Homo sapiens: one gene and its partners. The protein of the gene in region 3 purifies or fractionates together with the protein of the main gene of each other region. This does not show direct contact. Each region holds a gene or a part of one and is shown on either strand. Other genes may lie near its edges. The genes, in order: ADNP, YWHAE, HDAC7 and ZYG11B.

What was found.
Region 1: the proteins of HDAC7 (region 3) and ADNP purify together in Homo sapiens (affinity purification with mass spectrometry; 3 studies listed by BioGRID and IntAct, with this or other methods). This does not show direct contact.
Region 2: the proteins of HDAC7 (region 3) and YWHAE purify together in Homo sapiens (affinity purification with mass spectrometry; 4 studies listed by BioGRID and IntAct, with this or other methods). This does not show direct contact.
Region 4: the proteins of HDAC7 (region 3) and ZYG11B purify together in Homo sapiens (affinity purification with mass spectrometry; 3 studies listed by BioGRID and IntAct, with this or other methods). This does not show direct contact.

What each region holds. Positions count from the first base shown.
Region 1 is NC_000020.11:50,921,150-50,928,503, forward strand, and holds part of ADNP (activity-dependent neuroprotector homeobox protein), read right to left. Parts: intron 1-7,354.
Region 2 is NC_000017.11:1,361,985-1,369,338, reverse strand, and holds part of YWHAE (14-3-3 protein epsilon), read left to right. Parts: intron 1-4,280; coding exon 4,281-4,480; intron 4,481-7,330; coding exon 7,331-7,354. UniProt on the Homo sapiens protein: Adapter protein implicated in the regulation of a large spectrum of both general and specialized signaling pathways. Binds to a large number of partners, usually by recognition of a phosphoserine or phosphothreonine motif.
Region 3 is NC_000012.12:47,816,796-47,824,667, reverse strand, and holds the start of HDAC7 (histone deacetylase 7), read left to right. Parts: upstream 1-4,764; 5' UTR 4,765-4,882; coding exon 4,883-4,901; intron 4,902-7,872. UniProt on the Homo sapiens protein: Responsible for the deacetylation of lysine residues on the N-terminal part of the core histones (H2A, H2B, H3 and H4).
Region 4 is NC_000001.11:52,722,244-52,729,473, reverse strand, and holds the start of ZYG11B (protein zyg-11 homolog B), read right to left. Parts: upstream 3,022-7,230; 5' UTR 2,821-3,021; coding exon 2,791-2,820; intron 1-2,790. UniProt on the Homo sapiens protein: Serves as substrate adapter subunit in the E3 ubiquitin ligase complex ZYG11B-CUL2-Elongin BC. Acts to target substrates bearing N-terminal degrons for proteasomal degradation with the first four residues of substrates being the key recognition elements.

The DNA of each region.
Region 1 (7,354 bases), on a different chromosome or scaffold from region 3:
GATACTAAAATAATCACTTTCAAAATTCTGAGTTCACACCAGGGCATAACCTCTCCAAAAAGCTCAAACTATTATGACTGAGAATCAGATGTGGTTGCCATAACAACATCTGTTCCTGTACACATTACAATGCATCATGCACAGTAGTGTTTTTATACAATATTTTACATCTGTGTGAGCCATTCATACTCAGGTTTGCATATTCTTAACAAGCTCAGTGACACTTAAAATATTTAGGCAACTGAACATCTGCAACTATCTTAAATAAACCCAGGTGACTTACAGTTATGTAGAAACATAAAGGTGTCATCTAGATTTTGCGTATCTTAAGTTTTAAAAAATATGTGGAGTCACTGGTCTTTTAGGAAGATTTTCAGACTACAAGACTGGTGCCCACAACTGGAAAACTGCTACTGTGTTGCTGCTTATCCTGATACTTTCCGTATTCAGATTTCAGGCAAGAATTCTAGCAGTGACCACCAGAATTTCCAGTACACCAGTAGAACCAGTTGTTTTCAGGCTGAACTCCTCTAAGAGTTTAAGATATGTATACAAACAGAGGGAAGATGATGCCTGAGGGACAAGGTGAAAGCTGGGCAGCCAGAGGTCTGGCCCCCCGACCCTTCATCAATTTAAGAGTTCACCTAAAATTGTATTTGAAAGCGGGGGAAGATGCCTCGGTACTTAAACAAGAAAAACAGACTGAGGATACTTTATAATATACCAATTTAGATTTAGGGAGAGTGTGAGGTGAGGAGCACTTCCCAGTTTACTTCACTCTAAACAGGTATTGCAGCAAGGCAGGGACACAGCATAAAGAGTGATTCTAGCACTCCACTGCCTACATAAGAACTCCACAGGCATACAGCCACTTGCTGTCGCTGTAAGTGGACAATCTGGCTTAAGATCAATGTGAAAAAGGGAAATAATTCACAAGTAGCCCTTAAGGGGTGCTTTAGGGGAAAACTCTCAAACTTTGTTTTTCCTCTGCCCTCACACCACACAGAAGTCGTGAAGTTGTCTTCTGTGACCAAACGTGTAGGGTTTTTTCCCAAGCAGCGGACACCAGCTGAGTATCCTCTAATTTGGTTCTGACACTGTCTACCTGGATACAGTGTCATATTCCACAAGATGGGGGCTCAGTCCCCAAAACTGCTCTCTCCTTCTTCAGACTCCAACTGTAAGTCTGGGCCTCCAGAACTTCTGACTGACACTTCAAGCTGGGGTTCCCAAGACCCCCTCCTTGAGTTCTATTAATTTGCTGGAGCATCTCACAAAACTTGGGGAAACACTTATGTTTACCGGTTTATTATAAAAAGTACAGATAAAGAAATGCGTAAGGGCACTGGGCTTCCATACCCTCTCTGGGGGCGCCACCCTCCAGGTGTGTTCAACTATCTGGAAGCTCTCTGAACCCAGTCCTCCTGCGTTTTTTTTTTTTTTTTTTAAAGACAGAATCTCACTCTGTCCCCCAGGCTGGAGTGCAGTGGTGCAATCTCGCCTCACTGTAACCTCTGCCTCCCGGGTTTGAGCAATTCTCCAGCCTCAGCCTCCTGAGTAGCTGGGATTATAGGCCCCCACCACTAAACCCAGCTAATTTTTTTTGTATTTTTAGTAGAGATGGGGTTTCACCACGATGGCCAGGCTGGTCTCAAACTCCTAAACTTGTGATTTGCTCGCCCCCAGCCTCCCAAAATGCTGGGATTACAGGCGTGAGCCACCGCGCCTGGCCCTCCTGGGTTTTTATAAAAGCTTCATATAGGAAACCTTACTTCCCTTCCCCGGGGTATAGGGCCAACACCCTCTCTCTAGAGAGGATCTCAAGACCTACAATCAGAAAGCTGGGTAAAGATCAGAATCTTGCCTTGGGACACGTGTAAGGAGAGCAGGAGAAGATCAGAGATTATTTTCTGAGACCTAACGTACCCTATATTATAACAAAACACGGTAATGGGGTTATGGGTGTTATGAGCCAGGAACCGTGGTGGATGAAAACCAGTATGTATCACAACACCACAAGAGGACACGCAGATATGTCCATTTATAAATTATTTCAGAAGCATGCCAAGTCTTTGTATCTAAATGACATAAAACGTTATTTTGATCCCCTAATAATACATTTTTATGCTCTACCGAAACTACTCAGAAATAATTTCCCACAATAGGAAATATATTTCTTTCACTATTCTTGAGTAACAGAATATTTAAACTATGTTCTCAAGTTTTTCGAAGCCATTTCCCAGGATCAAGGCTTCACCGAAGGTAGCTTTTCAAAAGCGTTCTTGTACCAGGTTTTGCCACTTGATGGCTCAAGTTTTCACACTTTCCTCAGAGAAGTTTTATTTGCATTTTTTTTGGTTGCTGTTTTTTATTTTTATTTTTTTTTGAGACTGAGTCTCACTCTGTCACCCAGGCTAGAGTGCAGTGGTGCCATCTTGGCTCACTGCAACCTCCGCCTCCCAGGTTCAAGTGATTCTCCTGCCTCAGCCTCCCAAGTAGCTGAGACTACATGTGAGTGCCACCACACCAGGATAACTTTTGTATTTTTAGTAGAGATGGGGTTTCACCATGTTGGCCAGGCTGGTCTTGAACTCCTGACCTCAGGTGACCCGCCAGCCTTGGCTTCCCAAAGTGCTGGGATTACAGATGTAAGCCACCGCACCCATCCTCTTGTTGCTGTTTTTAAGTGTAACTGATCTTGAAGCAGGATTCTGAGCACTTCTTGCATTTGGATACTCCCAGTCTCAGCTCACTTCTTTCACAAGAGCAAGGATTCTGTCAACCTAAATTTATAATTCGAATTGAAAATTTTAATAAATTCCACCATATTTCCACTAGACAGGAGTTTCTCAAAAGAGACCACTCAAAAGGTTCTCAGGTCATGAGCTTCCACCAGAAGAGCAGAGCTTTACAGATTGTCAACTGAAGCACAGGTTTCCACAAGCTCTTAAATGGAGCATGAAGGATTCAGAAAAAGAAAGGGTAAAAGCCAGCAATTATCTAAGAAAAAAGTAACTGCTCAGGACAGACTGACTGTCTTAAACTAAAAAACTGGGAAAAGAAAAGGGAACATAAACAACGTTTCTTTTTAGATTCTTATACAGTTAACTTCCCAGCAGAAATATGCTACTCCAATTAACTGCCACCTGCACAATTTACACCCATACTCTCCCTGCTGGGGGTGTGGCTAGCTTCTTTACATGTAGACGCCATTGGAATCCTTGGGTTTAAGCTCACATGGAAGCATAAAACCTCACTGTGAAATGGGAAGCATTCATGTGAGCCCCCATTAGCCAAACAGCTTACAAGAGCACCATAAAGGCCTGTGTTGCAAGCACAGGCCTGGGAACCAGCCCAGACATACTCTGTGGCTCATTTCATCATTGTATGTGGTAGTGCCTTGATTTCCCTACTTGTGAAACAAGGATAGTCCTGAGAAAATTGGGAATAGTTTATAAAGTGCTTGGAAAATAAAACAGACAAGCCACCAATACTATAATACCATAAAGGCCAGCAAGGGGGCCTTTACACTTAAGCAGCACATCCTTATTAAAGTCATCACAGTCACATGAGAAGTGACATATAAACACAACCCACAGCTAAGTGACTCAATTACAAATCTATACCCTTACTGAAGAGGGTATTAGGATATGCAGATTCATTTTTAATTCTAACAGCTGGTCAAATAATGCATGACTCTTTTAGATTACGTGTATGCTTTTAAATTAAATCTTTAACTTAAATCTAAAACTGTGGCATATATTCAGAGCAGGCTTCCCTTTGTAAACTCCATCCAACGTTGTCTATGCTTTCCTCTTATTTTCTAAATCTTTATTTCCAGAACACTGCTGAAATTCTTGAGAGGTTCCAGGCTTTCTCTAGCTGCTGTCTTGGAACCAAGGTAGGGATCAATAATACCAAAGCTTGTGAGTGAAATCTCAAGGAACTCCTTAAGGCAGAGGACTGAATTAATACACAGAGATGACAGGACCCAGGACTAAAAACAGTAATATGAATTTTGCATTTTTCATTGATTAGAATAAAAAAACGTGTGCCCTGCAATCAAAACTGTCACTTTCCACAGTTGGCTCAATTTTTATCTGTGACTTCCTATACACACACACACACACACACACACACACTACATAATCAAGTTGGCTCATATATACCAACTTGAGAAGCATGATAATATGTGAGGAGAGCCTTCTCATTCCAGTGAAGCAGAATATGAATTCTCACTTAAGCTGACCCCAAAACTGGCAGATCGCAAAGGTAGGTCATAACATAACGCAGGTGTAGGGAGTACTAAGACACTGAGAGGATGAAGGAACATAATCATCCTCTCCTCACTTTCTAATAAACAGGATCAGACAAACAACAAAAAACCATGAAATCACAATGGCCACCCACAATGGGCAAAGCATGGACGGTTTATCAAATAAAGTATCTCAACAATCAAGGTGGAAAGTGCCAAAGTAAAAACAAGAAACAGCTTTTACATTCAAAGTATCAATTCAGTTAATTAGCATGGGGCTTTGGTTTATACTAGTTTCAAACACCGAGTTTCCAAACTAACAACATAGAAGGTGTTAACTGGCAGTGAGGTACATCAGCAAAATACGGCATTTACTCCAGTTACTATCACAAGCTCTTACAAAACTAGGAGAGGGGCTGGGAGCGGTGGCTCACGCCTATAATCCCAGCACCTGGGGAGGCCAAGGCAGGCGGATCACCTGAGGTCAGCAGTTCAAGACCAGCTTGGCCAACATGGCGAAATCCCATCTCTACTAAAAATACAAAAATTAACCAAGCGTTGTGGCAGGCACCTGTAATCCCAACCACTCAGAGGCTGAGGCAGGAAAATCACTCGAACCCGGGAAGCAGAGGTTGCAGTGAGCCGACATTGGGCCACCGCACCCCAGCCTGGGAGACAGAGCAAGACTGTCTCAAACAAACAAACAAACAACACACAAAAACTAGGGGAGGAAAAACTTTAAGTTTATACGATGCTAATAACAAGTCAAGCTCTGTGAATCCAACTATAATTAAATTATTTACACATAGGGGAGCAATGTTTCTCTTAATGTACATGCCTCTCAGTCAAGAGAATGAAGGTTAAACTCCCACTGAAAGTTATTTTACCTTATGTAAGACATAACTGACTTTATGATGCTCTTTTAAAAACTCCTTTGGAACTCCAGGTTGAACAAGTAGCTTATTTACACAACAGTCATGGGTACTTTGGTGTAAACCACAATAATGCTTCTAATGTTGTAAAATAAAAACTTCCTATTTTTTTCTTTCATATTACTTTAAAAATCTTTATTTCACTAAGATTTAAATAGGTTACTTGGAAAAAATACATACATAAAGTTTAATTCTGGTATTTTTTTACTACACTTAGATGTATTGTCCCCAAACTACATCTCAAAACTAAATGTACTTTCCCCAAACTACACGTGATACTTGAACTTTTCATCTGTATTTAATAATATGACAATCATTTCCAGCTCTAGAAAACCTACATATATTTTATATGTATGTGTACATACATACACACACCCAATTGTGAAATCAAGTGACCTAGGTCTATTGCAATTTATGCAGTTTTGTTACTTATATATGATTCTCAAAAGAAGAAACATAAATGCTGAAGTTTTTCTTTTTTTTACCCTATGAAGTATCAATCTCTACTTTCTCCTTTACAAAACAGCTTTATCTTCCTTATTAAGTTGCAATTTTCAAAATAAAATTTGTAGCCAGCATCATCTTATTTAATCAATAAACTTGAGTATTTTAGTTTTCAAAATACTAACTTTTTAATACTTTCAAAACGTGTAAGTAGTTACAAGGAAAGCAACAACTTCACATAGTATGCCTTATATACCTATACTTTTAATAATCAAATATAAATAATAAGCCATTTTTGCCTGATAAAAGCCTACTGGTTGGTTACTTGCAAGTGGTACCAAAACCATCTGTTCAAGGTTGTGAAGTTCTTATTTTAATATAAATAGTATTAAAACTCTTCCTGCACTCTGGTATAAGGAGAAAAAGATAAACTTAAGCAAAGCAAAGCAAATTCACAGTGGGCATGTATAAAATCAATGACTTCCAAGGTTGGAAGGGCCAAGGGTCATTAAGAGATTTTCAGCCCAATCTCCTATATTTTCTATACAGGAACTATAAAAACCAAAATCAAAGAGGTTAGTTTCAATATATAGCTCCTAATAAGCTAGTCTCAGGAAATTTTTCAACAAAGGCCAAGATAAAAAAGGAATTTCTACTTAAAGTTCAGTTAAACAGAATACCCATTCCCCACACTCTAGTTAATTGAACCTTTTACTATACTTTAATGAAGTATATAGTTTACCTACTATAAATTCCAGTCTTCAAGCCCAATTGTTTCACTTTTTTTTTTTTTTTGGTAGAGACAGGGTCTCATTATGTTGCCCAAGCTGGTCTTGAACTCCTGGCCTCAAGTGATTCTCCTGCCTCAGCCTCCCAAAGTTTTGGGATTACAGGCGTAAGCCACCTCACCTGGCCTCACCTTATTTTTTGAGTGTTAAAACCAAGAAACCTTTGAAACAGTAGAATACATGCTTTCTAAGAGCTCACAGCAAGTTTTCCTTTAAGGGAAAATGGCTGTTACCACTTAGGACATCATTCAACACTGTATCCCATTCGCTAAATCAAACAAAAGCCCCTCAACAAACTTCATTTCAAACATTCCGTCAAATAAGTTGTCTTCAAATTATATGGTCATTTTCAGAACTTAAATAACTGCATATAAAACACCAAATAAAGATAAAAACTATACCTGCCTACAAATACTATACAGTATTTAAAAATTTAAATAATCCCATTTAAATATGTGATTTTTCACAATGACTAAGAAATTGTAGAAGCAATGTCTCTAGTCAAATACCTGTACCAAAGGGCCTCCTTTTCACTCACCAAAATGTTACCTGGTAGCAATTCTCCAATGAAAAATTCTCCTGTTAAGCACCAACTGGTTAACTAGGTATCAAAGAATACACCCATTCAGTTCTCCATAAACTTATCTTGGTGTATTTATGTAACATACAAAGTCTTAAAGGTACCCACAAACATCAACCACTGTCAATCTTTGGTAGCAAGAACAAGTTCATGGAAAACCATGTTTTCATCAGACATTTAAGGCTTTTAGAAGCTTAGCAACTCTAGAGATTGGGTTATCAAAGTAATAGTAACTGAATACTTATACTTTATACAAAGGGGTGTAGAATGCAAATGATTACAATATTAGCATCTGTAAAAATTTCTCTTAAAAAAGCTGTAAGTAATTTCTTATGTTAATAAGTGTTCAGAACCC
Region 2 (7,354 bases), on a different chromosome or scaffold from region 3:
TATTTTTAGTAGAGACGGGGTTTTACTATGTTGGCCAGGCTGTTCTTGATCTCCTGACCTCATGATCCACCCACCTCGGCCTCCCAAGGTTTACAGGGGTGAGCCCCTGCTCCCGGCCGAATAGTACACTTTAAATGGGTGAATTGTTAGGTAGGGGAATTATATATAAATAAAGGTATTATTAAAGGGATAATTGTTGCTTCTATAATTTTACCACACAGTCTGTGCATTGTTTTGTGTATATGTAAAAATGAAAGCATTTATGCTTGAATCTGGAACAGTAGAGTATCACTGAGTGTTACAAATATATTTCTCTTTGCATTATAAAAATACTAAGTCTTCGTTGTTGAAAATTTGTAAAGCACAGAAATTTGAACAAAATTAAATCATAAGGAATGATATTCGAGATATGTAACTTAAATTTTTGGTAGTATTTGATGTCTGCATAGTTTTTCTGTATGTAATATTGTAAAGCCTTAAAAGAATTAATGGCACTGTTTTTGTGTAGCTGGGTTACTTAAGATTTACTTTGCGATCAGTTTAGAAAGTTTAATTACAGGCTTACCTCTGAGTTATGTTTGACTTGCTGATTTTTGAGAATTAAACTAGTATGGAGGTACGATTACCTATTCCACTGCTTCTAAATTTAGACTGTTTCGTGACTGGTTTAGAAAACAAAATTGGGCATGTTTTAGATGAATGCTTTCAGACTCCTACAAATGAATTAATGAGTGGTCTTATTACCATATTGTAATACTTTTTTTTTTTTTTTTTTGAGACAGAGTCTCACTCTGTCGCCTAGGCTGGAGTGCAATGGCGCGATCTCAGCTCAGTGCAACCCCTGTCTCCGGGGTTCAAGCGATTCCCCTGCCTCAGCCTCCCGAGTAGCTGGCACTATAGATGCCTGCCACCATGCCTGGCTAATTTTTGTATTTTTCTTTTTCTTTTTTTTTCCTTTTTTTGAGATGGAGTTTCGCTCTTGTTGCCCAGACTGGAGTACAGTGGCGCGATCTCCACTCAGTGCAACCTCCGCCTCCCGAGTTCAAGCAATTCTCTCGCCTCAGCCTCGAGTAGCTGGGATTACAGGCATGTGCCACCACGTCTGGCAAATTTTTTTGTATTTTTAGTTTCTCCATGCTGGTCAGGCTGGTCTCGATCTCCCGACCTCAGGTGATCTGCCTGCCTCGGCCTCCCAAAGTGTTGGGATTACAGGCGTGAGTCACCGTGCCTGGCCTAATTTTTATATTTTTAGTAGAGACGGGGTGTCACCATGTTGGCCAGGCTGGTCTTGAACTCCTGACCTCAGGTGATCCACCTGCCTCAGCCTCCCAAAGTGCTAAGATGACAGGTGTGAGCCACAGCACCCAACATGTCATCCTTCTTTAATGGTTCAGAATTGCATTTAAAAAATCAGCTTGAGGTGTACAGTTAAACGTGCCACTTTTACATGTACAATTCTGTGACCTGTCCTTTGCACAAAAGCCCCTCAGTTCACCTCTGTACCTTGATAACCATTTGCTTTCTGTCTTTTTAGTTTGTGTTTTTTGCAATTTGATATAAATGGAATGATAAAATCCTTTTAATCTGACTCTTTTCACTTAATATGATGTTTTTCAGATTCTTCCATATTGTTGCTTGTATCAGTTAATTATTTTTCTCCCCTCCCGTCTCCTCTTCTCTTTCTGGACACAGAGTCTCTCGCTTTGTCATCCAAGCTGGAGTACAGCGTTAGGATTATACAAAGTAATTGTGGTTTTTGCTGGCAAAATGCGCAATTACTTTTGTACCAACCTAATAGCTCACTGCAGGCCTGAATTCCTGGGGTCAAGCAGTTCTCTTGCCTTAATCTCCTGAGTAGTTGAGACCGCAGGCACACACCACCACACCCAGCTAATTTTTGTAGAGGCAGAGTCTCACCATGTTGCCCAGGTTGGTCTCAAACTACTGGGCTCAAGTAATCCTCCTGTCTTGGCCTCCCCAAATGCTGGGATTACAGATGTGAGCCACTGTGCATGGACAGTTAATTCTTTATTTTTGAGTGGTATCCCATCTTACATATGTGAACATCAGTGTGCTTATACATTTCCCCTCTGGATGCACATTTGAGGGGTTTCCACTTTTTGGCTATTATGAATAGAGTTGCTGTGAGTGAGTGTGTAAAAGTCTTTGTAAAGATTATTTTTCTTCTGGATGATGCATAGAATTGGGATTGCTGAGTCATATGGTACATGTTTATTAAAACATTGCCGAATATTTTTCGAAGAGACTTTACAAAATATGGCTTAATTTTTTTTATATTCCCGAAAGGATTAATTTTTGAAACATATTTTCCTGGATACATTAGGCACACTCCCCTTAATTTAATAGTGTTTTGGTTTTTGTTTTGTGTTTTTTTTTGAAACGGAGTCTCACTCTGTCACCCAGGCTGGAATGCAGTGGTGCAATCTCAGCTCACTGCAACCTCTGCCTCCCAGGTTCAAGCAGTTCTCCTGCCTCAGCCTTCCTGGTAGCTGGGATTACAAGCGTGCACCACCATGCCCAGCTAATTTTTGTATTTTTAGTAGAGACGGGTTTCACCATGTTGGCCAGGCTGGTCTCGAACTCCTGACCTCAGGCGATCCACCCACCTTGGCCTCCCAAAGTGCTGAGATTACAGGTGTGATCCACCGTGCCCGTCCAATTTAGTAGTGTTTTATGAAGTCACCATCTCTTTCATACCTATTAGTTAAGGTATGCTTATGCTTAGGGTGTTAATGAAAGCTAAGGATGCTTATTTAAATGCAGATTCTTTCTTTTGGTTTTTTTTGAGATGGAGTCTGCTCTGTTGCCCCAGGTGGCATACAGTGGGGCGATCTCAGTTGCAATCTCTGCCTCCTGGGTTCAAGCAATTCTGCTGCCTCAGCTTCCCAAGTAGCTGTAATTACAGGCGCGCACCACCAAACGCAGCTAATTTTTGTATTTTTAGTAGAGACCGTTTCACCACGTTGGCCAGGCTGGCCTTGAATTCGTGACCTCAAATGATCTGCCCACCTTGGCCTCCCACAGTTCTGGGATTATATGCATGAGCCACTACATCCAGCCTATTTTTATTTTTATTTTTATTTTATTTATTCTATTTTTTTTTTTTTGAGGTGGAGTCTCTGTTGCTGGGCTGGAGTGCAGCGGCATGATCTTGGCTCACTGCAATCTCCACCTTCTGGGTTCAAGCGATTCTCCTGTCTCAGTCTCTAGAGTACCTGGGACTACAGGCGTGCATCACCACGCCCAGCTAATTTTTGTATTTTTAGTAGAGACAGTGTTTCACCATGTTGGCCAGGATAGTCTTTATCTCTTGACCTGGTGATGTGCCACCTCGGCCTGCCAAAGTGCTGGGATTTACAGGCATGAGCCACTGTGCCCAGCCTCTGTTTTTATTTTTTAGAGACAGGGTCTCGAACTCCTGAGCTCGAGTGATTCTCCTGCCTCAGCTCTCAAAGTGCTAGGGGTATGAGCCACTTACTCCTGGCCCTAAAATGCAGATTCTTGAGTCTCATCACCAAAGATTGAAACGTGGGTAATGTTGGAGAGCCACATGGTAATATGGCATCAAAAATAAGTTTTTATTAATGTATTTATTCAGTTACTATTTCTTGTGCTGTTTGTGGCGCTTTGCATTCACACGCCGTTGTGTTTCCCTATGCTTGCGGTAGATGCCAAGGCTTTTCTGGGCCCCTTTCTTTGCTCGCCACCTAGTGGTAACAAGTAGGAATCATCAGAAGTTTTACCAATGAAGGAGCTTCATACGAGGAAGGATAGAAAACATCCAAAGTCTGTTGGTGGCCAACCATATACTCCGTATATTTTTGCTGTATGAACAAATTCCCCTTCCTTTTGTATTTTTGGAAATACTATTTATTTGTGAGACAATACATTTTAGAACCTGTAAATTCTTAATCTTTCTCTTAAACTGACAGCTCATTTTTTTTTGCTGGAAAATAGTTAGGTGTGCCTAATTACCTTATTTAATGAGAGGTGCTTTCAGACCACACTAAATTATATTAGATAGTATATGAAGTCTTTCTCACTCCACCTAACTACCTTCTGGAGTCTTTGTATTGGCTCTTAGTTTGGTTTCCTTTACATGTTTTTGGCTTTTTACTCATATTAGTTTTGATGATTATGAAATTATTTTTGTTAAAATGTTTTTTTCGCAGTAGCTTGACAGAAAAAAACTACTTTGAAAGGAATATGTTAAGAAAACTTCAAATTTGTAAGGTCTGACTTTTCCTTTTCCCATACAGAAATGGTGGAGTCAATGAAGAAAGTAGCAGGGATGGATGTGGAGCTGACAGTTGAAGAAAGAAACCTCCTATCTGTTGCATATAAGAATGTGATTGGAGCTAGAAGAGCCTCCTGGAGAATAATCAGCAGCATTGAACAGAAAGAAGAAAACAAGGGAGGAGAAGACAAGCTAAAAATGATTCGGGAATATCGGCAAATGGTGAGATTGTTGTGCCATCATCCCCCCTTATCCACAGTTTGAGTTACCTGTAGGACGGTACACTTAAGATTTTGAGAGAAAAGGAGACTACATTCATATAACTTGTATTACAGTATGTTATAATGTTTCTGATATTGATCTTTGTGCCTGGTTTATAAGTTAAACTTACCCGTGGCTATGCATGAGGACAAAACATAGTCTGTATCAGGTTTGGTATTTTCCATGGTTTCATCACATCCACTGGCAGGTCTCAATGGATCCCTCTTGGATAAGGGGGAACTATTGTATTTTCAAGCAAAATGATGACTGTTTTTTAAAAAAATATGGTGGGTTGGCCAGGCGCGGTGGCTCAGGCCTGTAATCCCAGCACTTTGGGAGGCTGAGGTGGGCGGATCACGAGGTCAGGAGATCGAGACCATCCTGGCTAACATGGTGAAACCCCGTCTCTACTAAAAATACAAAACATTAGCTGGGCGTGGTGGCGGGAGCCTGTGGTCCCAGCTACTCGGGAGGCTGAGGCAGGAGAATGGTGTGAATCCGGGAGGCGGAGCTTGCGGTGAGCCGAGATCGCACTGCTGCACTCCAGCCTGGGTGACAGAGCGCGAGACTCCATCTAAAAAAAAAAAAAAGCACCCAAAAACCAATATATTGGGTTAATTTGTCTGATTCCTCTTTTTTTTTCCCTGAGGATTATTTAATGAAGTTATTTTACTTACTGTGGGTGTATATACATATATAAAATGTTTCTTATTGTAGGTCTTGTTAAAAAAAAGTTGGACAGCCATCACTGTAATGCAGCAGTTTTCAATTAGAGGTGCTTTTGTACTTCAGAGAACGTTTAACAATGTCTAGAAATACTTTTGATTGTCACAACTTCTGGAGGGTGTTCCTAGCATCTAGTGGGGTGGGGACTGGGGTGCTGCTAACCATTCTACTGGGCACAGCACGGGCCCCACAACAAACTGTCGGGAGTGCTGCTGTTGAGTAACCGATTCTAGTAGAAGAGACAGGCACGTAAATACAGGAAAGAACAGGGAAGAGAATTACAGGGCAGGTGGAAAGTGAGGTTGGTTGGGGGAGGGAAGGGTGGGGGAACCACAGTTACTGACTCGCCAGCTGTACTGGGCACTGTCCTGAGTAGAGAAATATTTTTGTTACATGTATTTGTGCAAGGTAGTACATGAAATCTTTAAAATGGCACTGGAAGGGGGAGGTATTATCCCAACTATGAATGCACAAACCAGGGTTTTGGGTGTTTGACATACCTGAGGTCACATAGAAAGTTGTGAGCTGGGGCCTTCCGTGGTGGCTCATGCCTGTAATCCCAGCACTTTGGGAGGCCAAGGCGGGCAGGTACCTGAGGTGAGGAGTTCGAGAGCAGCCTGACCGACATGGTGAAACCCCGTCTCCACTAAAAATACAAAAATTAGCCAGGCATGGTGGCGGGCACCTGTAATCCCAGCTACTCGGGAGGCTGAGACAGGAGAATCGCTTGAACCCAGGAGGTGGAGGTTGCAATGAGCCAACGTCGAGCCACTGCACTCCATCCAGCCTTGGCAACAAGAGGGAAACTCTGAATCAAAGAAAGAAAAAGTAAAAAATAAAGAGTCCAGATGTCCTGATGAGTCCCTAAATAGAAATAATAAGAGAAGAGGAACTGAAAAAGGAAGCCACGGGCCAAGAGTGGAGTGTTGCAATTCAGACTTCTAGTATGGAGCAGCATGGTCATGGGTGTGGACAAGTGAAAGTCTAGGAGTAGAGAGCAAAGAACTCTGTTGAATGGAACATGGCTGCACCATACCTTGGTGTGATCTCAGGTATTGGGTGGGTTTGCTGTAGATACTCAGTGAATCTGGGAGAAGGGTGTAGAGATCTATTGATGACAAAAACTGAGAAATAGAATGTAGATCATCAGCTTGTGAGGAGGAAGAGTTTGGAGTAATAGAGCAGTCATTGAGTATGCAAGGAGCTAGGAGAACTTAGAAGTCTTCCTTCTCCTAGACCAGTCTCTATTGGAAAAGCTGTCAGGGATGTCGTTTATTCAGAAAGTAGTTTTGCTTGGGATAAGGATGTGATTATAGAAGAAAAAGAGAGAATTTTCTGCAGTGAAACGGAGGTTCCAGGGGCACGGAGAGGACCCTCATGAAAGGTTCAGCAGTAGTGCTGCATGAGTTAATAGCAAACAGGAAGCAAGCTGAGGATGTGCGTTGAGAGGTGGTGTGCGTGTTCAGCATGATCAGTGGATAGAGATGGGTGGCAGTAGCTACTTTGGTAGATAGGTTTTCGGTGTTTTAATAGTTACGGATCTCTGCCACTAAAGGAATTGCCTGGTGAATGTTGTTAAGGATGTGAGTGCTGAAGGCAAACTGCCTGGGTTTAAATTTTGATTCTGTCCCTTGCAGCCTGCCTGGGTTCAAATCCTAGCTCTGCTTATTAAATTCTTATTTAATTGTTGATCTTAGAGCAATGTCTTTACGTTGCTACCTTGTGAAAGAAGGTAATTCATGTAATTGACCAGCATTTACCAAGAAGCATCAGTGTTCAGTTTTAGTCATTGGTAATTCTGTAGCTGTACTGTGGTACTGTGAAGGGGGTGTGGGGGCTGGCGTGTGTGCGTGCCTGCATGTGTGTGTGTAACAATAGGCAGCATGCAGAAGGGAAAAGATACTTTTTATAACCTAGAGGCAGCTTTTCTCTGCTTTTGTGTCAAGAAGGAAGAAGGGAGTTTGGAGAGGGATACAAATTCTTTTTAATACTAAGCTCTCTACCTCAAAACCAGAGATAGAATATGTAATAATTTGTAGAATTTCTAGACTTAATCTGATTTAAAAAAAATTTTTTTTTTTTTAGGTTGAGACTGAGCTAAAGTTAATC
Region 3 (7,872 bases):
GAAGTTAATGGCAGAGCTGGGCCTAAAACTCAAGTTCCCTGACTCCCAGCCCAGGCTCCTGATCCCCACAATGTCTCCTTTCTAGCTCTCTCCTGATGCTCCTGGCTGGGGACCTGGCATAGTCAAGGGGGTGACCGTTGCCGTCTTTTCATTCATGGTACCTTCTTTGTCTTGGGCTTGAGGAGACTGTCTGGCTTCCTGCCCCTCCCCATCCTGTCCCAGTGCTTTCTCCTTGTGTCCCCTGCCACATAGTTGGCACATAGACACATACATGTATATTCAGAACTGCAGGTGTCTAGGGCAACAGACCACAGGGGAAACCACATCACCTTTGTTGACTCTGTAGGGAGATGGGGGTAAGGGGAAGGGACCAGCTTAGTTCTCTCCACCTGCCCCAGTCCCCACAGTCATCTACCCTCCCAACCTGAGACCCTGGTACTTATAGCCACACTGTAGCCTCTTCTTGATCTAGCCATCCAATTCTGGCCCAGAAGGATTTGGCACCTCTTCTCTCAGATCCTGACATCCTAGATAGGGGTCTGCCTGCCTGTACCCCAAAGTCACACCCCCAACCCTACTCAGAATACTTATACGGTTCCCCTGATTCTGCTGGTGCAGTGCAACAGAGAAAGGTGGGAAACAGGGATGAGACCACATGGCTGGGGTCAGAAACTTGGCATCTGGAATGAGATGTACAGGGACCTCAAGGAAGCAGGCTACACTGGAACAGGAGACCCTGGCAATGCGTCCTTCATTATTTTGACCTGCTAGGAAATTGCACAGGCTCTGAATCAGACATACTTGGGATTAAGTAACTTACTGGCTCTGTGGCCTTGGGCAGATCATTTTGTCTTTCTGAGTTTTACTTTGCTCATGGAAACAATGGGGATAATAATGAGATTTAAGTGAAAGGGCTTTGAACAGCGTGCGATATGTAGAACATGCTCAATAAATCCTAAATTATCTTTCCTTCCTTCTTTTTCTTCCACTCCTTCCTTCCCTCTCTCCTTCCCTCTCTCCTTCCCTCCCTCCTTCCTTTCCTTCCTTCCTTCCTTTTTTTCCTTTTCTTCCTTCCTTTCTTCTTTCCTTCCTTTCTCCCTTCTTCCTTTTTTTCCTTTTCTTCCTTCCTTTCTTCTTTCCTTCCCGTACTTCTTATATCTCTTATGTCTGGTCCCATGAAACCCTTTATTTGGAGTTGGGGACCTAATCTCCCTTACTAATCTGCAAGTCCCAAACCCTGAGAATTGGCATTTGATTCCAGATCCAGAAACTGAAATGCAAGATCCAAACTAACCCAATACAATGAGTGTCCACTGAGATCTCACTGAACTGAGGCCTTGGGGAAGGAGCACTTTCTGGTTGGCTTTGTGCGAAGTGTGTGAGGATAAGTGCAGGCTGGCGGAGGAATTGTGGCTATGGCCCCCACATCTAGAAGGTTGGGAACGGAGGGTATCAGAAAGTTTGGATAATTTTCTGGGGCTTTAAATCCTGGCACAAAGTAGGCACCCAATAATATTTGTTGAATGAATGAATGGCCCTGTCACTTACTAGTTGTGCAACTTTGATCAGGTTTCTTAACCATAAAGGCCATGCTTTACTCATGAGCATAACAAGGATTATTGTTAAGAATAAATGATCTAATGTTTGTCCAGGGGATAGCAAGGACTGCTACGCAGTAAATGGTAAACAGTAGCTAACTAAGGAAAGAAGGAGAGGAAAAGGAGAAGAGAAGGTCAAGTAGGCCCAGAGTCCCAAAGGGAAGCAGATTGGGGTGCCCTCAGGCTTTGTGCTGGCCGGAGACTCTAGGGAAGGCTCAGGAAGCCAAGGCACGTCTTTTGGGGCCAGTCTCTTCTGCTAGGTGTTCAGCTGAGAAAGCTATGAGAGGCCTGGACTCAAGAGCTTTTTAAAAAAAGGCTCCCCACGGTAACCAGGCTAGAAGAGAGAGAGGTAGCTTGCATTTCTCTGTCTCATGTCTCTAAGGTTCTTGGAGGCTTTCTAATTTATCCTGGTAGGGGACATGTGACTTAGAAACTGGCTTAGGACTCTGCCATGAGGCGGGGTCTGGTAAGTAAATCTGGCAGGGGAAGGAGAGACACAGTCCAGCTTTCCCAGATGCAGGTTGCACATGCTGTCTTTTTCTCTGACTATATGTTGGAGGCAGTGAGTCCTGGTGTGTAGAAAGCCACATGTTGGGCACTGTGTGGACAGACAGGCAGGGAGATAGCCTCTTAATTCAGATCACTCAAAACTCAGTGATGAGTTTAAAAAGAGAAAGAAGACTCACAAATAAATGTATGCACAATGCACATGGTAGAAATGAGCATAAAAGGGCCTGGCTTTACTACAGAAATAGCTACAGAAAAGCTACGGATATGTGTGTGTTGGGGGTTGGGATCAATTGTGGAGCTAGACAAGGGAGATAGCAGGCATGTCGCTGGGGGTCTGCAGTAACCAAGCAGTTTTTCTGGAGTCTGTGGACACCAAAGAGGCATTTGGAAGGAGGATGATCTGGCTTGGAATTGAGGGCTGGGGATGACATACCTAAGGTGGAACAGCATGTGTCTTGGAGAGTCAGCATGGGTAGTTATGGGGTGAAAGAATGTACTGTAGGTGTCCAGCTGGAGAAGGGTTCTTGAAAGTCATGAACATCTGTCCCAATTCAACAAATAACTCACATCAAGTTTGAATTCTGTGCAAGACACTACAAGAAATGCACCCATGACCAAGGCAGTAGCTGGACTCAGGGATATCCACTCTTGAATGCTCTTGGAAGGAAGAGAGTTGAGACAAGTAGACTAGGTGGGCGAAGGTCAATGTATAAAGACCACACAGTTCAGGGAAGAATTCCTCTTGGCTATGGGAATCCGGGAAAGCCTCCCGGAGAAAGTGGTATGCCACTTTCTTTTTCTTCCAGTCCTTCCTTCCTTCCTTCCTTCCTTCCCTCCCTCCCTCCCTCCCACTAGATAGGGAGTGGGTCTTGAGGATTGGAAAGATTTCAACAGAAGGAGAAAGGGGCTGGGAGGACATTTCTTTTGGAGGCAGCATGATGAGCGAAGGCAAGGGAGTGTGGAAGCGTGAGGACAGGATGGGAAGCAGCTAGCAGCCCAGTCTGGCAGAAATAATGATAGTAATAATAGTGACTAACACTACTGAGCCCTAAGTACCAGGAGGCACTGGGCAGGGATGTGTATGGAGTGTGGTGCCAGGTTGTAGGAGGACTTGAATGCCAGGAAAGGCTTTTGGGAGGGTAAGTTAACAAGCGCAGAGGGGTTGGATCTGCCTGCCGAAGGAGAACTGGGACAAGGAAAGGGGCTGAAGTAAGAAGTCCCACGCTGAATATGCCGGTAGCAACAGATAGTGAGTCCCGAGCTGTGCCTGAGGGAAGGGAATAGAATCTATGGTTTGAAGTTCACCGCCAGCATGGCCAAGCCCTCCTAGGCCACTGTGGGCTCTTGCTTCCAATCAGACATGACTCCACCTCTGGGGCTGCCTCAATTTTTCCTTCTCTGGATTCTTGGGGTTTCTTAGGATTGCGGGAGATAGAATGGGGTCAGGGGAAGCTGCTCCTTGGTTTACAATGGTGGCGCCTCACGCTGCAGAGAGCCCAGTGTTCCTGCGTGGTGGACCTCTCCCCTTCCTAGGAGCAGCTCCAGATTGCTGGAGGCAGACACGGCTGACCGGCTAGCCCAGGAAGCACAATGGCGAGGTCCTTAGCCCCTGACCCCTGAATCTGACCTTCTCTCCAGCTAAAAGCGGAGGGAGAGGCAGGGAGGGCCACTGCCTAAAGCCGGCCCTGAGCTGAGTTTATTAGCTGAGGGAGGGCTGGAGGCGGCTGCATTCCGACTCACAGACTGGAACATTTCTGTGATCCGCTGTAATGCACTGGGGGACACTGGGCACATTGCTGAAGTTTGACTCATAGGGACCGGGAGGGGGAAAGAGGGGGGTTGTGGAGGGAGAGGAATGGGAGGAAGAGAGGAAGAGGAGAGGAGGGAAGGAAGTCCCTTGAGAAATTTCTTTAAAAAAAGAAAACTTTCAAAATCTGCACCACCCCCACACCCTTTTTCTTTTAATAGGAACAGGCTGGACCCTTCCGTTCCCCTCAGCAGGCATGGTGTGTGTGTGGGGGTGCCAGTGGGGGAGGGCTGGGCAGTGATTCAAATCAGATCCTGGAACTTTCCTGAGGCAAGTCGTGCTTATGTGTGTGTGTGTGTGGTGGGGGGTGTCCGTCTGGGATTCCTTGTATGGGACATGGGACACCACGCGTGTCCCACTGTGCCCGCGTGTGGCTGCGTGCTTGTGGGCTGTACGGGTATGTAGTGTGTGCACGGGGGTCCACCCCGAAGCCCCAGTGTGTGCTGTGTAAATGATTCTGCCCCTTGTAAACATGGATGCGTGCTCGTGTACGTTGTGTATGCGAGGGTGCGTGCGCCCAGGTAGCTGGGTTTCCGGGAATTGTGCACGGCTCGGAGCGCCTCGCGGCGGCTGGGGCTCGGAGCCGCGGCCGGCGTTCCGGGTTCGGCGCTGCCTCCCCGGCAGTGCGCCGCGCCCCGCCGCGATCTGGCCGCGCGCGGTGTCTGCGGCCCGCCTGTGCGCCGCGCGGTGCAGTGTCTGCCGGGGTGGTGTGTCCCAGGGCCGCGAGCGCCTGCCCCCTCCCTCCCCTCCCCCTTGGCCCGCTCTCAGACTCAGATAAAGCATTTCCTTCCATTGTCATCCTACCCGGCCGGCCGGGCTGCCAGGGCCCTCCCCCTCCCGGCCCCCTCCCTTCCTCTCGCCGTCTCACAGTCGCTCTGCAGCCTCCGGCGACTGGGGGGATGTGAGGCCGGCGCCCCAGCCCCCCGCCCCGCCATGAGCCCCCCGCTCTGAGGGCCCCGGCCCCTGGATGCACAGCCCCGGCGCTGGTGAGTACTGGGCGGCCGCCCCCCGCCCCGCCCTGCGCGCGGCACCCAGCGTCGCCCGCCCAGGCTCGGCCTCCGGCCCTGGCCCCGGCTCCGGCTCCGGCTCCGGCTCGGGCTCCCGCCAGCCCCGCGGGCCCAGCCCGGCTTGCGCCCCCCGACCGCGCCTGTCCCGCCCGGCTCCGCGGGGCTCTGGCAGGCTCCGGGTCGGAGCTGGTTCCGGGGGCCGGAGGGCTCGGGCCTCCCGCGGGGCGCCCACATCCGCCCGCCCCGGGGCAGCTACAGGCCCAAGGGAGGGAGTTGGAGGCCCCGGCCGCCGGTGTGCGGGCCCCACGTCCCATCACCCCTGTTCCCGGGGAGGACGAGCCGAGGGACCGGGGAGGGAGGGACGGCCGCGGTGGCCCGGCGAGGGGGCGGTGCTCCGGGGCGGAAGGTTTGGAAGCGCGAGGGCAAAGGGCAGGACCCACTGAGTTGGGGCTGGGCTTTGTGGGGCTGGACATCAGCGCCCCCATCCCGTGGAGCCGGGCAGGGCCCTACTCAGATCCTTCGGCGGGGAAAGAGGTCCCTTGGAGGGGTCTCTGGCTGGGAGGTTTCTCTGAGCATTGCCCCCCATCCTTGCTCACCCATCAGGGTGAAGAGACACCTGTGCCCTGGTGAGCTGTGGAGGTCAATGCCGGCAGCGGCGCGGGAAGCGGGGCGCCGCAGGCTGTGTGAGGGGTGGGGGACAGGATGTGCACCCCCCAGGCCTGGGGTCTGTTGGTGTTGGGGAGTGTGAGAGCAGGCGGCAAATTTGGCGGATGGGCTGGGTTCCCACGACCAGAGTTTCTAGGCCTGTGGGCCAGGAGAGAGCCCTCTGGGGCCCGCAGGCCACCCAGTGCCCCACCCCCATTGCTTCCCGCTGTGGCTGCCCGTTTGGGTCTGACCTCCCCAGCCACGGCTGCTCCTCACTCCTTCTCCCCGCTGGCTGTCTTGCGCACCCAAAGGCCTCCCCCTGCATCTGGACACTGGCTGTCTCGCTGCCAACGCTCCCTGCCCACTCCCCTAGGCAACATCTGCCTGAGGCCCAGCTCTGCCTGCCGCTTTCTAGGGTGAGAATGGGGCATCGGCCCTCAGCGGCCCTGCTGGGAGCTCAAGATCAACTTCTCAGCCTGTTCCCTGGACTTGCATCTGGACCTGTGGGACCTTCCTCAGGACCCCTATTCAGCTATAGGGCTGGCAGGAGACTGTGACTCAGGTCCCTGCCCTCCAATGAGACGCTTTGGCGGCCCTTTCCCCCTCCCAGGACTCCATAGGCTGCTAGGCTGCCGCTACCCATGGGTTATTAAGTCATTTTCTTCTTCTCTGCAGTCATTTCTGAGGGAAACTAAGGCACAGAGTAGTCCCAGTGAGTGGTACCCAGCCCAGTGAACCTAGACTGGAACCAGGTCTTGGACCTATTGGGACTGGTCCTCTGCCTTTAGTCCCCTGATGTCCCTCCTTGCCCAGCAGGGCCAGGCTCAGAGGCAAGCTCAGAGCTGCCTCCTGATGTTGCACCTGGAATGGTCCTGGTGCAGTGTTCTCCAGAGGCCTCTGTGTCCCTTATTCGGCGGGTGTCTCTGTGGCCACCGGGTCTTACAGTGGGTTTTGGGGCAGGGAAGTTTGCATGTCTAAGCTGTTCACTCCACTTTGACACTGAAGTTCAGTTTCCCCATCAGTAAAATGGGGAGAAAATTCCAAGCACACTTCTCAGAGCAGAGCAGAAGAGGTTGACTATGGAGAGGAGAATGAAGGTACTGTGCTATTATCCACCCCCTCCAGTTTGCTTAGGGATAATGGACCTCAGCTTTAGTCCTTGGTGGCCTCTTGGCATGGAAGCTGGAACTTTCTCAATTCTGATATAAAACCCTTGAGCAAGAGAGAAACTCATGTGTGATGGGGTAGGGAGTGGGGACCCTCTGGTAGCTGTGGGCAAGCATGCCCAAGGACTTGGAAGACAGAAGCCTGTGGAACCCCATCTCCTCTTTGCCTTCTTTCTCCTGGCCTTTCATTAAGGGCTGGTAATTTTGAAGTCGGCAGGGGCCTGAGAGAAGGTGAGCTAATGCAAGGCCCAGGGTCACACAGCCAGGGAATGGCAGGCGGAGGGGGCCAGAACCAGGCCTTCTCACTCTGCCAGTGCCCATTCTGCTGGCCCACCCTCCACAGCTTGGCTCTCCCTGGCCTGCCCTCAGTTAGACTTCGGACTGAGGCCTCCAGTGGGGTGTGGGGTATTGCTGGAAGCAGGGCCTGAATAAAGTCTGGGGCTAGCGGGAGGGCATCTGTCCTCCCGGAGGCTCCCAGGACTGTGCATTTGTGTGTGTTGGATTTGTTCACTAGATGGGGCACTTCCTTTGGGGCAGGAAGCTTTGATTTCCTGTGGTGATGGTGAGGAGGGGTTGGTAAGGATTAGGAGTGGGGGGCTCAGCTCTGGGCCATCCTCGATGTTGTTGTTTGGAACCACGGAGGGGCAGAGTTTCTGCTTAAGACTGCTTCTCCCAGCTCTGGGGAGGCAGGAAGGAGAGCCTTGGTGAGGAGGCCCAGGCCAAGGCTGGAGAAGGAGGCTGTGAGAGCAGTGAGCTGGGGGTGGGCAACACAGCAGGAAGCCCGGTCAGCAGGTGACCCTGCCGGGTATTGTGTTTCCTTGTAATATTTTCCCCCTGTTTCTGTGGTAACCTTCCCTGGAGGCCCCAGGCCTTAGGGCTACAGGAAGGTGCCCCCAGACAGCCCTTTCCTTAGAGGCCTGAGTATTAGGAGGAGTCCCCAGATCTAGCCACCTCCCTAACCCTTTTGGCTCCCTAGGATCAGGGGCCTGGGAATCTAGGCGAGTGGCCTGAGTGAGCATGGACTCGCGGGCTGGGGGAAGGCCCTTTGGCGTCTTCTGGGGGGAAGGGAGAGGGAAAGAGGGGAGCTGGACGCCCGGAAGGGCCCTGAGCAACTTGAGTCGCTGGCCTAGCCTCTTGTT
Region 4 (7,230 bases), on a different chromosome or scaffold from region 3:
ATAAGCTAATATTCTGCCTTCTCCTCACCTCTCCCATACATACACTGTTACTCTGTGTGTATATGTTTTAACAAGCAAGGAAAAATCAAGTTAATTAGATGCAAAGTTTAAAACATAATCATGCCTAATATGTCTGCTGTGGTCTGAATTCTGTCTCCCTAAATTCATATGTTGGAATCCTAACCCCCAAGGTAATGGTATGAGGAGGTGGGGCCTTTGGGAGGTGATTAGATCACCAGTTAGTGCCCACATGAATGGGATTAGTGCCCTTATAAAAGAGACTCCAGAGAGCTGCCTGGCCCCTGCCACCATGTGTGAAAACAGTGAAAAGGTGACTTAGGAAGAGCCCTCACGAGACACTGAATCCACTGGGGAACTGATTTTGGACTTCCCAGCCTTCCAAACTCTGAGAAATAAATTTCTGTTGCTGACAAGCTACCTAGTTTATGGTATTTTGTTACAGTAGATTGAATGGGCTAAGACAGTATCTTGCTAGCCTCATTTCCTACTACACATCTCCATTCTTGCATCCTTCCATGCTATATAAGGGTAATACTACTTCCTACAATGCATCCTAATTCCTTCCTACTTTCTTTCTTAAAAAAAAAAAAATCCCTGTGAGGGGATCCTTTCTACTTGCTACTCACATTCACAATGAGGCATTCTTCCCCTTCCCAAAATGATCTATATAAATCCTATTCAACTTTCAGGCCCAGCTCAAAGGACACTTTTAGATCCTAAATACCTCAAAGGGGAGTTCATAACTCCTCCCTCTCATACATTCATTCTCAATGGAAGGGCCCACACTTTCAAAAATCTAGCAGTGTAATGTCTTAGGTAGGATAGCTCTTTATTCTGAAAAGTATATCATCATACCTCACTCAATATCATTTTTGCATCAAAATTAAGATTCTCTGCCCAGGCGTGATGGCTCATGCCTGTAATTCTAGCACTTTGGGAGGCCAAGGTGGGAGGATGGCTTGAATCCAGGAGGTCAAGACCAGACTGGGCAACACAGCAAGACTCCATTTCTACAAAAAGTTTTACAAATTAGCGGGGCACGGTAGTCCGTGCCTGTGGTACCAGCTACTTGTGAGGCTGAGGTGGGAAGATCACTTGACCTCAGGAGTTCAAGGTTGCAAAGAGCCATGATTGTGCCACTGCATTCCAGCCTGGGCCACAGAGCAAGATCGTCTCCAAACAACAATTCTCAAACTCACTCTTTCTGTGTAGTCCACTAGTTACCTCAAATTTCAGTTTAAGTTTATATTAGTCAGGTGGGAAATGAGACCATAAAGTGAATCATTCAAGCACCTAGCTGGCCTGGGCACTTGGAATAATAAGTAAGGAACGGTTGCTACCTAGAACTTACATTCCACAGGGAGAAACAGGTTAGCATACAACAACAGTGTGTGAAAGTGAAGGAGACAAACACAGGAAAATGACAGACTAAAAATGCAGGAGTGAGTTAGGGAAAATTCATAGATTAAATAATTTTATAGTATATTACTTTTCTAAAAAACTGCTGGAGGGAAAAAAAGAAACTGACTAACCTCCTAGGGGAACATAATTATCAGGACTTAGTTTTGCCTTATTCCTCCCAGAGACCAAAATTTAGCTTGTTGCATATGATGGAGCAATGTTTTCAATAAATGTACAGCAAACCACTTATAACCCAACTCAATGAAAAAACCAACTGAAGCCTCAACCTATTTTCAGACAGAAAGAAAATTTGCAAATATAAGGTTCTCCCAACTAAAGGCAGACAGGGCAAAACAAATGAACTCTTTAGAAGGTTTAAAGAGACTGTCACAACCTGCCAACCTGATTGTCAGTCCTCAAATGCCCTTGGTCTCTGCCTCCAAATGAAAACAAATCATTTGTTTTTAGTAATAATAGCCAAGCTTGTAAATAAGTATTTTTAAACTTCTCCAACTGCACCTCCACATTAAAAGATGCTCAAAATAAAAAAAATTCAAAACATTTTTTAGCTATTTCTGTCAAAAGACTAGATCTCTCCTGAGGTCACAGTATGCATGCTGGCCCTCACTTCACTGCTCTGTAACACACCACCACTTCGATTTTGCAATGACACTAGGTGAATAGGCTTCCAGGATCTCTTCAATGCCTCCAAAAACGAAAAGGAAGAAGCAAACCTATAAATCCCTATCTGCCCGCCCTACAGCTCCCGGGAAGCAACAGTCCTCAAATTGTTCCTGCTTAGACCCCTGAAGCCCGTAGAAGGAAATGGGGACAGCTGCGACGGCGAACCGAGCGAGGACATCCGATAAGGGAAGAGGAAACGTGGATGGAAGAGGACGAAGGGGAGAAGGAACACGGAGAGAAGGGGGCAGTGGAGATAAAATGGTGAAGAGGGGTGAGAAGAGCAAGGAAGAGCAGCGAAAACTAGGGAGGAAAGGGGGGAAAGTAAAAATCACATAAGAGGAAAAAAGGCAAAATGATAGAGGAGAAAGAAAGGAAGGGTTAGGGTTAAAGGACAAGGAGTGGGCGACAAAGGGAATGCGAAAAAGGCTGTCACTGGGGGTGATAAAAAGGATGTCATCGGGGAGAAGGGAGATTCAGGGGGTGTCACCTAAAGGGGTTCACCGAAGCAGGTGAATGGGGAAGGAGGAGCTGAACACCGAGGGGGCGGTAACGAGGGAGAGAGGTAAAGGCAGGGAGCCCGAGGGGACACCAGAGACAGGGAGGGGCAAGACCGCAGGGGCCAGCGCGACGGGCGGGGGCTAGGGTGGCGGGCGGCTGCGGCTAGGGCAGGCCTTGCTCCCTCACCATGGCTGCGCCGGCCTGGTCCTCGGGCATGCAGCCTCCGTCCTGGGTGCGGCGGCGGGCCGGACCGGAGCCCGCCCCCAGGCTGAGCCGGCGCGGAGGCTCCAGGAGGCTCCGGCGAGCGGCGGCTCCGGGCTTGGCCCAGGCCTCGGCCTCTTTCCCTCAAGCTAGGAGCGTAGCAGTAGCAGCCGCAGCCGCAGCCGCAGCCGCAGCCCGAACCAGAGCGCAGACTCCGCCCCCGCGAGGACCCGCCCGGGCGCGCGAGCCCGCGCCTGGACCCGCCTCCGCTCTCAATGCGCAGACTCAGACGAGGGGGTCCCGCCCCCCCCAGCCCGACCTCCAGCTTCTCCCCCTCCCAGGCCCTTAAAGGAGCCACACACCCCCAAATCCTAGCATCCCTTCAAAATATGAAAAGCTTTAAATATTACATCATGACGAGAGATTAGAGCATCGCTCACTTCGGTCACCTATAGACTCCTCTGTCATTCACCATCATTCTCTAAGATTTGGGCTTCTGGTTCACTGTCATTCATTACTACTATTGTCATAACTCTTGGTTATTTCAAAATTCGCTTAATTCTTCCAATCCTCTGGCCTCTCAGATTCTTCTCTAGGGATCATTCTTGGCTCAGCCTCTCACTCTCATGCTCATACGAATAATTGTAACTTCTCTACAATCTCAATTTTAATCCTCTAACTCCCATTGCAACCTTCTTCCTTTCTTTCTTTCTTTCTTTCTTTCTTTTTTTTTTTTTTTTTTGAGATGGAGTTTCGCTCTTGTTGCCCAGGCTGGAGTGCAGTGGTGCGATCTTGGCTCACTGCAACCTCCACCTCCCGGGTTCAAGTGATTCTCCTGCCTTAGCCTCCCGAGTAGCTGGGATTACAAACACCCGGCACCACACCCGGCTAATTTTTGTATTTTTAGTAGAGAAGTGGCTTCACCATGTTGGCCAGGCTGGTCTCGAACTCCTGACCTCAGGTGATCCGCTTGCCTTGGCCTTCCAAAGTGCTGGGATTACAGGCGTGAGCCGCTGCGCCCGGCCACAACCTTCTTCCTTTCTAGCTCACTCTGTCTGATAATACTCCAACTCCAAAAACTTCAACTCCAAGACCCCAAATCCATTGATCCAACTACCTTTTCGCTATTCCTCCCCACGCTGGCCTTATGTACTCACTTTCTTCCTGAAACAGCTTAGATTCTATCGTCCGTCATGAAATGGAATCTAATAGAATCTAAGCTGTTTGGGGAAGAAAGTGAGTACATGAGGTACATGAAGTCGATTTCTTCAGTATTACCTTCATTTCTCTAGTCGTTCTCTGCTTTCTTTGTACTGACAGAACTCCAGCAATGGAGTGGGTGGAGAAAAAGCCAAAAGTGGTTGACTGACTCCCCGTAAATTTGAGATCATTATTCTCAAGAGGCCATAATGAGTGGCTACCCTACCACATTTCTCCAGTTTCACACACTCTCCCACCTTGCTACATAACTATTTCAAGTCTCCTGTCTCTTCAAACCTCCGACACTTCCTCCCTCATCTCATTTAGCTGATGATTTTGCTTCTAATTCACAAGAAAATCAAACAAACCAAAAAGAACATCTACAAGTTCCCAGCACCCACCATGACTTCCAACGAACCTGTAACTCTGCTTTGATGCTCTCTCTGCCTTCCTTTCCTTACTACAAGTTAATTATTTGTCTTTTAGCTAACATCAAATCCTCCTCAGTTCTCAAGCATCTGTGCTAAAAGACCCAGATTTTATCCCCAATCACAAAACTAAATTTCTGTAAAATACAATCAAAATTAATTACTAGAAAAAATTAAAATTTAAAAACAAGCATCCAAAATGCAAGCCCAGATTTTTTAAACCTGCTTAACCATTTTAAAGTGTACAGTTCAATGGTATTAAATACATTCACATTGTTGTGCAACCATCCCCATCAAGAAGCTCCAGAACTTTTTATTTTTTCTTTTATTTATTTATTTATTTATTTATTGAGACAAGTTCTTACCCTGTCACCCATCAGGAGTACAGTGGCACAATCACGGCTCACTCAGCCTCAAACTCCTGGGCTGAAGCGATCCTCCCACCTCAGCCTCCTAAGCAGCTAGAACTACAGGCACATACCACCACGCCTGGCTACCTTTTTTTTTTTTTTTTTTTGTAGAGACAAGGTCTCACTGTGTTGCCCAGGTTTGTCTCAAACTCCTAGGCTCAAGTAATCCTCCTGCCACAGACTTCTAAAGTGCTAGGATTACAGACGTGAGCCAATGTGCCAGGCCTCCAGAACTTTTTTATCTTGCAAAGCTGAAAGCTTGTACTCATTAAACAATAACTCCCCATTCCTAACTTCCCCCAATCCCTCGCCATCACTGTTCTGCTTTCTATCTCTATGAATTTGACTACTCTAGGCAGAATTTTTATTATTAAACCCAACACGCGTAACATTTTTCTGTCAAATTGTTATAAAAGTTTCAAAATATTAATTCTGAATTGCTGTCACAAACTGGTGAAAAACCATTTCTAGATGGTCACTAGTCCATTGATGACACTTTGAGGAGCTCAAGTACTAGGTCTCATACCACGTCACTTTCTCAAAGACACCTATCCAGCAATTCTTCCTCTCACCTACATCGCTATTTTTCTGCTATTACCTCTCATTGCTATAGCAACATGATTTTATTTCTTCCATCTTAAAACAATCAAACAAAAAAACCCTCCTTAGGTTGCAGTGAGCCAAGATCACGCCACTGCACTCTAGCCTGGGCAACAGAGCGAGACTCCACCTCAAAAAAAAAAAAAAAACCCTCTCTTGACTGGACTTGACCCCCCACCTACTGCCCCATTTCTCCATTCTCTTTTCTGCAAAATGTCTCACAAAGGTGGCTTGTACATGGTCTCACTCTGTTGCTTAGGCTGGAGTGCAGTGGTGCGATCTCAGCTCACTGCAACCTTAGCCTCCTGGGTTCAAGCAATCCTCCCACTTCAGCCTCCCAAGTAGCTGGAACTACAGGCATGTGCCACCACGTCCAACTAATTTTTGTATTTTTTGTGGAGATGAGGTTTCATCATGTTGCCTAGGCTGGTCTTGAACTCCTGAGCTCAAGCAATCTGCCTGCCTTGGCCTCCCAAAATGCTGAGATTACAGGCATGAGCCACCTCGCCTGGCCTTGACTTCCTTTTTCTCATTTTCGGTGAGATCCTCTCTGGTTAAGCTTTTACCTCCTCCACTCCACTGAAATGCCCTTGTCAAGGTCACTAGTGGTGTCCATTTGCTGACACCAGTCAATTCTCAGTCCTCGTGTTACTTGACCTACCAACATCACTAGACACAGCTCATTACTTCCCCCTCCTTGGCTACCATGACATTTCACCCCCTCGGGTCTTCTATCTCACTGGCTGCTCCTAGTTTCTCCTCATTTCTCTGACCTCTAAATACTGTAGTACCCCAAGGCTCAATATTTCGACTTTTTGTCTTTTGCATGTACACTCCTTGATAATCTTATCCCAACACATTACTTTAAATATTATCTATGCTGTGATAACCCCAAAATTATATCTGCATTCTGAATTTCATACTTAAATATCTAACTGCCAGCTAAACATATCCCCTTATATGTCTAGTAAGCTACAATTTTTCTTAGTAGTTACTCAATAGACTTCCCCTCAAGTACCATGGATAAGCCAATAAATACCAAAGAGAATAGGACCAACAATAGTAGCTTAGACCAATCATGATTTACTCTCCGTCTGATCTGTGAGTTACTTTCCCTAAGGACTTCCTTGTAGTGGAGGAAAATCGTCATTAAAAATTAGAGTTCTGGGCTGGGTGTGGTGGCTCAGGCCTGTAATCCCAGCATTTTAGGAGGCTGAGGTGGGTGGATCATGAGGTTAGGAGATCAAGACCAGCCCGGCCAACATGGTGAAACTCCATCTCTACTAAAAATACAAAAGAAATTAGCTGGGTGTAGCGGTGCGCACCTGTAGTCCCAGCTACTCAGGAAGCTGAGGCAGGAGACTCGCTTGAACCCGGCAGGCGGAAGTTGCAGTGAGCCAAGATCACTCCATTGCACTCCAGCCTGGGCGACAGAGAGGGACTCCTTCTCAAAAAAAAAAAAAAAAAAAAAGAAAGAAAAAAAAATTAGAGTTCTAGCCAGCCAAGGTGGTTCACACTTGTAATCCCAGCACTTTGGGAGGCCAAGGCAGGCAGATGGTTTGAGACCAAAAGTTTGAGACCAGCCTGGGCAAAATGGCAAAATCCCATCTCTACAAAAAAATACCAAAAAGTAGCTGGGCATGGTGGTAGTTTCAGCTACTCAAGAGACTGAGGTGGGAGGATCACCTGAGCCCTGGAGGTCGAGGCTGCTATGAGGCATCATCACGCCACTGCACTCCAGCCTGTGTGACAGAGTAAGACCCTATCTCCAAAAATAAATAAATAAA